Linked DNA regions of Homo sapiens: region 1 is linked to region 2. Evidence: fine-mapped expression QTL. A gene starts in region 2. The other region holds a variant in brackets. All regions are shown on one strand. Distances are from middle to middle. Region 1 overlaps MAPK8IP2 (mitogen-activated protein kinase 8 interacting protein 2). Region 2 holds the start of CHKB-DT (CHKB divergent transcript).

What was found. PIP is the estimated chance that this variant, and not a neighbour inherited with it, causes the effect. A credible set is the group of variants that fine-mapping cannot tell apart.
Region 1: its variant is the best candidate, but not a certain one, in a credible set for the expression of CHKB-DT in naive CD4 T cells (Schmiedel 2018, PIP 0.71).

What each region holds. Positions count from the first base shown.
Region 1 is chr22:50,613,407-50,617,788 of GRCh38, forward strand. MAPK8IP2 (mitogen-activated protein kinase 8 interacting protein 2) reads left to right here. Exons shown (of 12, transcript NM_012324.6): 12 at 1-572. Among named protein-coding and RNA genes, the nearest start is that of ARSA, 13 kb to the right of the region's middle. The variant GAA/G (reference allele first, on the strand shown) is at 2,170.
Region 2 is chr22:50,580,614-50,584,957 of GRCh38, forward strand. It overlaps CHKB-DT (CHKB divergent transcript), which reads left to right and starts at 2,413. Exons shown (of 4, transcript NR_110536.1): 1 at 2,413-2,710. CHKB (choline kinase beta) reads right to left here and starts at 2,236. Exons shown (of 11, transcript NM_005198.5): 1 at 1,945-2,236; 2 at 1,636-1,744; 3 at 1,136-1,249; 4 at 807-940; 5 at 1-47. The coding sequence starts at 2,168. CHKB-CPT1B (CHKB-CPT1B readthrough (NMD candidate)) reads right to left here and starts at 2,386. Exons shown (of 30, transcript NR_027928.2): 1 at 1,945-2,386; 2 at 1,636-1,744; 3 at 1,136-1,249; 4 at 807-940; 5 at 1-47. RefSeq lists silencers at 1,733-1,932, 2,263-2,352, 2,383-2,782.

The DNA of each region.
Region 1 (4,382 bases), 33 kb after region 2:
TATCCTCACCCCAGCACCTTTACGTCTGCCCCAGGCTCCATTTCCCCCTCTTCTGCCTGGATCAAACCACCCTGACTTTCCTGGGTCTTCGTGCAACAGCCTGCTCCGGCCGCTGCCTCACTGCACCTGCAAATCCACTTGCACCCACACCCAGGCCAGGGTTTTTAAACAGAAGCCTCAGCAGATCCCTCTCTCTGGCCAGCTCCCTGTTGAACCAGGAAGCAGGTCCCTGTTGAACCTCAGCATGACCCGCCCCCACCCCTGCATCCCACTTCTGCTCTGGGAGCCTCTGGGTTCCTGGGCGCACCTGCTGCCCTTCCCTGTTTGTCACTGGGTGACCTCCCGTCCTTGTGGGCGCTCCCGGGCCCTGGTCTCGGGCCTTCTGAGGACTTGCTCTCCTGGTAGCGGCTGCTGACTGTGAGCCCAGAGAGCAGGCGTGGCTGTTGACCTTAGGTCCTCCCAGAACCTGGCGGATCGCCTGGCTCCCAGGCAGGAGGCGCTGCATGACGCCTCCAACTTCCGCCAATCTAGCCCAAGGATGGCGTTCTAAATAAAACGCGTTCTACAGAAAAGTGTTTATTGCATTCTTCTTTGAAATAATGTAAGCATAAAAGTAATCTGAATATTGACCAATAGGGTTAATTGATTAAGGTATATTTACCTAATTGAAATATTGGGTAGATGTGAAAAAAAGTTCCAATGTTTGTAATTACACAGAAAATTTCTGTTATGCTATTAAGTGGAAATAAATTTCTGGGCACAGCAGCTCATGCTACTGTGTAATCTTAGCAATTTGGGAGGCCAAGGTGGGCAGATCCCTTGAGTCTGGGAGTTCGAGACCAGCCTGAGCAACAAAGCGAAACCTCTATCTCTACAAAAAAAAAAAAAAAAAAATACAAAAATTATCTAGGTGTGGTGGCACACACCTGTAGTCCCAGTTACTTGGGTGGGTAAGGGAGGAGGATAGCTTGAGCCTAGGAGGTTGAGGCTGCAGTGAGCCATGATCATGCCACCACACTCTGGCTGGAAAGAGCAAGACCCTGTAACCACAATGAAAGAAAAGAAGAGAGAGAGAGAGAGAGAAAGAGAGAGAGAGAGAGAGAGAGAGATGAAAGAAAGAAAGAGAAAGAAAGAAAATAGGCAGGGTCATATGTAGCATTCTAGAAACTATATGTTGAAAAATGCTGAAACACAAAAAATGTTAAAAGTCATTTTTGGCCGGGCGCAGTGGCTCATGCCTGTAATCCCAACACTTTGGGAGGCTGAGGCAGGCGGATCATGAGGTCAGGAGATCGAGACCATCCTGGCTAACACGGTCAAACCCCATCTCTACTAAAAATACAAAAAATTAGCCGGGTGTGGTGGCAGGCGCTTGTAGTTCCAGCTACTCGGGAGGCTGAGGCAGGAGAATGGCATGAACCTGGGAGGCGGAGCTTGCAGTGAGCCAAGATCGCGCCACTGCACTCCAGCCTGGGAGACAGAGCAAGACTCCGTCTCAAAAAAAAAAAAAAAAAAAAAAAAAAAAAAAAAAAAAACCACCTCATTTTTGCTGAAGTTGAGCTGAGGGTGTTTCTCTTCCTTTTTTTCCTGCAGCAAATATGTCTTAATTTTTTGAAGTATTATTTGCTACTTATTAGAGACCTCCAAGTGCAAATGGAAATATCCACAGAAAAACTAAAGATAAAAAAGTTAAGATAAATTAATCAAACTCAAACAAAAAAGTTATTTTGGCTACAATAAAAATACCACCCCATAAGGTTATCATAAGGCTTAAATGAATCTGCCAGTCAGACAGGCCAAGGGTAGTGCTTGAGTAAGTTATTATTTTTATAAACACTATAAAAGTAGGATTTCCCTATTTTTAAAAATATTACTTTCCCTGGCTGGGCGTGATGGCTTGCACCTGTAATCCCAGCACTTTGGGAGGACGAGGCGGGTGGATCACCAGGTCAGGAGATCGAGACCATCCTGGCTAACACGGTGAAACCCCGTCTCTACTAAAAATACAAAAACAAAATTCGCTGGGCATAGTGGTGGGCACCTGTGGTCCCGGCTACTCGGGAAGCTGAGGCAGGAGAGTGGCGTGAACCCGGGAGGCGGAGCTTGCAGTGAGTGGAGACCGCACCACTGCACTCCAGCCTGGGAGACAGAGTGAGACTCTGTCTAAAA[GAA/G]AAAAAAAAAAATTACGTTCCCTATAAAGAGTAACACATATCATAGACATTTTGGAGACTGCAGATGATAGAAGAAAGGCTAAAATCAACTGTATTTTTATGGCCCAGAGATAACTGTTTCTAATATTTTGGTGTATTTTTTCCAGTCTCCCTTCTACTTGAGGGTTGAAGGCAGAGGGAGGTTAGGGGAATCAAGAAGAATTTAAGGCAAAAGATAAAAGCAAAATAGCAGAGGTCGCTGCAGGCATACCTTGGAGATTTTGCAGGTTTGGTTCTAGACCACCACACTAAGATTGCAACAACGTGAGCCACACAAATTTTCTGTTTTCCAGCGTATATAAAAGTTATGTTGGCCAGGAATGGTGGCTCATGCCTGTAATCTCAGCACTTTGGGAGGCCAACGCAAGCAGATCGCTTGAGCCCAGGAGTTTAAGACTAGCAGGGACAACATAAAAAAACCCGGTCTGTATATATATTGTATACCTGTATATTTTATAGATATACACGTATGTAGTATATAGATATACATGTATATAATATATATAAATACATGCATATTTTATATATATATATATATATTAGCTGGGTGTGGTGGCATGTGCCTGTAGCCCCAGCTATTCAGGAAGCTGAGGTGAGAGAATTGCTTGAGCTTGGGAGGTTGAGGCTGCAGTGAGCTGTAATTACACCACTGCACTCCAGTGTGGATGACAGAGTGAGAACTTGTCTCAAAAAAAAAAAAAAAGTTATGTTTCCACTATACTGTAGTCTATTGAATGTGCAATAGCTTTTAAAGTATATACCTTAATTTGAAAATACCTTATTGAGCCTGGGCACGATGACTCACAACTGTAATCCCAGCGCTTTGGGAGGCCGAGGTGGGTGGATCACCTGAAGTCAGGAGTTTGAGACCAGCCTGGCCAACATGGTGAAACCCCATCTCTACTAAAAATACAAAAAAAAAAAAAAATAGCCAGATGTGGTGGCAGGCGCCTGTAATCCCAGCTACTTGGGAGGCTGAGGCAGGAGAATTGCTTGAACCCGGGAGACAGAGGTTGCAGTGAGCCGAGATTGCGCCATTGCACCCCAGCCTGGGCAAAAAGAGCAAAACTCCATCTCAAAAGAAATAAAATAAAATAGGGCCGGGCTTGGTGGCTCATGCCTGTGATCCCAGCACTTTGGGAAGCCAAGGCGGGGGGATCACGAGGTCAGGAGATTGAGACCATCCTGGCCAACATGATGAAGCTCCATCTGTACTAAAAATATAAAAAATTAGCCAGGCGTGGCCAGGCTCAGTGGCTCACACCTGTAATCCCAGCACTTTGGGAGGCTGAGGCAGGCGGATCATGAGGTCAGGAGATTGAGACCATCCTGGCCAACATGATGAAGCTCCATCTGTACTAAAAATATAAAAAATTAGCCAGGCGTGGCCAGGCTCAGTGGCTCACACCTGTAATCCCAGCACTTTGGGAGGCTGAGGCAGGCGGATCATGAGGTCAGGAGATCGAGACCATCCTGGCTAACACGGTCAAACCCCGTCTCTACTAAAAATACAAAAAATGAGCCGGGCCTGGTGGCGGGCACCTGTAGTCCCAGCTACTTGGGGAGCCGAGATCACGCCACTGCACTCCAGTCTGGGTGACAGAGCAAGACTCCGTCTTAAAAAAAAAAAAATTAGCCAGGCGTGGTGGCACGCACCTGTAGTCCCACCTACTCTGGAGGCTAAGGCAGGAGAATCGCTTGAACCCGGGAGGCGGAGGCTGCAGTGAGCCAAGATCATGCCACTGCACTCCAGCCTGGGCATCAGAGCGAGACTCTGTTTTGAAAAAAAAAGAAAACACCTTATTGCTAAAAAAATGCCAGTGATCATCTCCACCTTCAGTGAGTCATAATCTTTCTGCCGGTAGAAGGTACTGCGTCAGTGTTGATGGCTGTTGACTGATCGGGGTGGTCGTTGCTGAAGGTTGGAGCAGCTGTGGCAATTTATTAAGACAATGAAGTTTGCCACACTGACTCTTTCATGAAATATTTCTCTATAGCATGTGACACTGTTTGATAGCATTTTATTCATAGTAGAACTTCTTTCAAAATTGAAGTCAACCCTCTCAAACACTGCTGCTGCTTTATCAACTAAGTTTATGTAATATTCTTTTTTTTTTTTTTTAAGAGACAGGGTCTTGTTCTGTCACTTAGGCTGGAGTGCAGTGGTACAAT
Region 2 (4,344 bases):
TCTCAGGGAGGCCAGTTGGGGGCAGGTCCTGGATCTGTTTTAGGTACCTGAAGCCCAAAGAATAGGATACACTGGCTCTGCTATTCTTTCCCACCCCTCGCCTATCTACCCCTCAGGCCAGACTACTGCACCCCTGCTCCTATCACTGTGTGACTTGTCCGGCAATCATTTCTTTTTTTCTTTTGAAATGGAGTCTTGCTCTGTCACCCAGGCTGGAGTGCAGTGGCGCGATCTTGGCTCACTGCAACCTCTGCCTCCCGGGTTCAAGCAATTCTCCTGCCTCAGCCTCCCGAGTAGCTGGGACTACAGGTGCATGCTGCCATGCCTGGCTAATTTTTTTGTATTTTAATAGAGACAGGGTTTCACTGTGTTGTCCAGGCTGGTTTTGAACTCCTGAGCTCAGGCAATCTGCTCACCTCAGCCTCCCGAAGTGCTAGGATTACAGGCATGAGCCACCGTGCCTGGCCTTGGCAATCATTTCTTTTTTCTTTTTTTGTTTGGTGTTTTGAGACAGAGTCTTGCTCTCACCCAGGCTGAAGTGCAATGGCATGAGCTCAGCTCACTGCAACCTCCGCCTCCTGGGCTCAAGTGATCCTCCCACCTCACCCACCTCGGCTCCCAAAGTTCTGGGATTACAGGCATGAGGCACTGCATGTGGCCTCTGGCAAGCATTTAAAAGCCTGTTCTGTGACAGCCCATGACATCAGATCCACTCAAGTGGAGGGCTGGATAGAGCCCCCGACACATCCGCTGGCATGGAGGTTCAGCTCAGGAGTACAGGAGCCCTGAGGAGGCTCCTGACTCACCGCTCCATGGTCCCAAACAGCCAGTGGGGCTCCTTGGTGAAAGGCATCTCCATGCCATGAAATTGCGCCATCTTCGTGGCAATGGCTGCTGACAACACTGGCTCTCGAAGCTCTTGAGTTTTCAATGGCCGACTCTGCACCCAGGAAGCTATCAGGGTGGTGATGGGGCTGGGGCAGGAGTGGGAAGGGCTGGGGCAATGAGGGGAAGTCAGGGTTTTGGGGGAAATTCCCTACTTGGGGTGAGGGATGTGGAGGCAGACATTGGGCACTGGGGTAGGGTTAGGGGGTGGAGGTGCCTTGGGGAGGAGAGGGTAGGACTGGGCCCGTACTGGGATGTACTGTTCCAGCCGGCCCTCTGGGAAGACTCCGTACAGCTGGGGCCCCAGCGACCGCTCCGCAAGTATGGCGAACATCACGCTTTCTAGCACCAGGGAGTCCACGCCCTGAAAAAGGATGGACAGCAAAGGGGCCAAGGCAAAGTGGCACAGGGACACACATGAGGGCTCGCCTTCCTCCCACCAGAGCTGCGACTTCTGATCCAATTGCCTGGAGGCTCTGGAGCACAGGCTTTAGCGTTGGTCTATTTTTATTTAGAGATGGGGGTCTCACTATGTTGTCCAGGCTGGTCTCGAACTCCTGTGCTCAAGTGATCCTCTCGCCTCAGCCTCCCAAAGCTCTGGGAATACAGGCCCAGGCTTCGGTGTAATGAGGTGTTACTCAGACCGTGAACCTCGGTGTCCTCAACTGCGCAACGGGAACAATACTACCCGCATCGCGTAAGCGACAGGCCCTAAAGCCACTGGTGCTGCGGCGCTCACACCCCCCTCACCTGCAAGATGGCTCCGTACAGCCGCAGAAGCACCTCCCGGGGCTCCTCGCCAACGCTGGGCAGGTGGTCCGGGAGCGAGCAGCGGAAGAGCAGGTTGCTGAGGCCTCCGCTGCAGACCCACACCAGGCGCGCTCAGCCCGCGGCCGGCCCTACCTGCCGCGGCCCCGGCCCCCTCCCGGCCAGGCCGGCCCCGCCCCGCCCCAGGCGCGGGCGCAAGAGGGGGGCGAAAACATGGAGCATCCTGAGGGCCCCGCGGCTGACCCCTGACCCCGATCCGCGCACCGGAGAGGCTGACCCCTGACCTCCCACCTCACGGGGTAAACCCTCAGCTCCTCGGGCTGCACTCGGCGCCAGGCCCCGCCCAAGTACTCCCGGCACCATTGGTAGGCTCGGCGCTCGGCGTCACGCGACAGCGACGAGGCGCGCCGCCGTTTTGGGGTAGTGTCCGGGCACTTAGACTGCTGCAAGCCGTCTTTGGCCAGGCAGCCGCCAACAGCCCCGCTTCCGGCCACAGCTGTCGCCTCGGCCGCCATGGCGCGGGCTCGACCGGGCCCCAGGCCAGGCTGCGCTCCGCTCCCTTCGGACGGGCTCGGTTCCTTCCGGCCGCGCTCGGCTCCTCTTCCGGCCGGCCTGGGCTTCTCCGGTCATACTCGGGTCTCTCCGGCTCTATTCGGCTCACGGCTGCGGCGCTCGGCTCTCTCCGTGCCCCGGCCCGGGGGCTCTTTCCGAAGGCCGAATTCCGCAGATCTCTGCCGGGCCCCGCCCCTATGGGCAAGGACCAATGGTCTCTCTCTGGGCGGGGCTGCTGTTGGACGGCCTGGGCCAATCCGAGGCGCCGGAGGCCAATCAGTTGGCGGAGCGGCGCGTGCGCGGGCGAGGAACTGCCCGGGCGCGGTAGCGTACGGGAAGACCGGAGAGGAGCTGCGTCTCTGCCCCGTGGGAGCCGGCGGGGCGGCGGGGCGGCGGCTGCAGCTGCAGCTCCGGCGCGAGGGCTCCCTTGCCGGGCCCTCTTCCCCGACCCCTGGGGCGCTCCGACAAGGAAGAGCCGTCCAGCGCGCGTCCGTCCTGAGCGTGGGTGAGGCCTGGAGGAGGCGCGCGCGCTAGGCAGGGCCGCACAGCGCGGGCAGAGTGCGGGATGCGGGCACCCGGTGGGTACGCAGTAAACATTTGCTGAAGGAATGTGACCCTTGGGACAGTTCCGATGACTCCAGTTGCATAAATGCCCAGTCTACACGGGGACTCCCTGGCCGGTAGAGCCGCACCTCTGAATGAGGAGTCTTTTGCTGCCCCGCTTGAGATGCGCGTCTTCATTCATTCCCCTCTCCCCCTATCCTCCTCGTCTCCTCCAGGCCTAGAACCAATTACAGAGTCAAACCCAAGAGCCGAAGAAAGTGAAGACTCGCAGCTTGCCGCAGCCCCCTCCTCGGCCTGCGCACCTCCCATTGAGGGCGTCCTGATTTAAACGCGTGCCTCCTGCATTTCTGCTTCTGCCCCAGGCTAGAGCGGCGACCAGGAACGCTGGACCCACAGAGATCTGTGGCAATGTCTGTCGAACCATGGTGTTCTTTGGGGCATCTGACTAGAGTATTGTTTGATAACCAGAAAGAAATCAAAAATTGGTGATCACAAGGCTAATGTCACTTTTGCTGCAGTGGAAAATCATGATCATTCTGTTTAAATCTGAGTCAGTTTTGAGACCTAGAGCCCATTAATTGACAAGGAGGCTTGGTTCCTCTCAGGAAGGATCTTACAATACCAGCATCTGAGCATATACCAAGAAATATTCCTCCAATCCTTCCCTAAAGGGACCTAGAGCCACTTTAAAAAGTAACTGGTCCGGGCGTGGTGGCTCACGCCTGTACTCCCAGCATTTTGGGAGGCCGAGGCGGGCAGATCACTTGAGGTCAGGAGTTTGAGACCACCCTGGCCAACATAGCGAAACCCCGTCGCTACTAAAAATACAAAAATTAGCCGGGTTTGGTGGCTTGTGCCTGTAATCCCAGCTACACGGGAGGCTGAGGCGTGACAATCCCTTGAACCCAGGCCTTGTTGCCGCGAGCCACTGCACTCCAGCCTGAGCGACAGAGTCAGACTCAGTCTCAAAAAAAAAAAAAAAAAAAAGAAAACTGATTCTGGCTGGGGGCAGTGGGTCACGCTTTTAATCCCTGCACTTTGGGAAGCCGAAGTAGGAGGATCGTTTGAGCCCAGGAGTTTGAGACCAGCCTGGGCAACATAGCAAGAACCTGTCTTTACAAAAATTAAAAGATTAGCTGGGCGTGGTGGCAGGTGCCTGTGGTTCCAGCTACTCTGGATGCTGAGGTGAGAGAATCACTTAAGCCCAGGAGGTCAAGGCTGCAGTGACCTGTGTTCACGCCACTGCACTCCAGCCTGAGCAACACAGCAAGACTGTCTGAACAGCAACAACAAACACACCAAAAAAACTAGTTTACTTCGGAAAAGGGACTGTCTAGGTCTTTGAAGGGCTGATACAGGATCTGAGCTGACACTGTTTCCAGGAGCCCTGAAGCATCATGGCCCTCTCATTAGGGTGCAGGCTTATGGAAATCAGATGATAAGCAGAATTCCCAACCCGAGTCCTGTGGTTACTTCTCTGGTCTCAATGCATACTTGGGATGTTTTTACCTAGCAGAGGGCGGAGCGTATACATTGATCCCAGGCCTTTGGTACCATATGTAAGGAAGCGCAAAG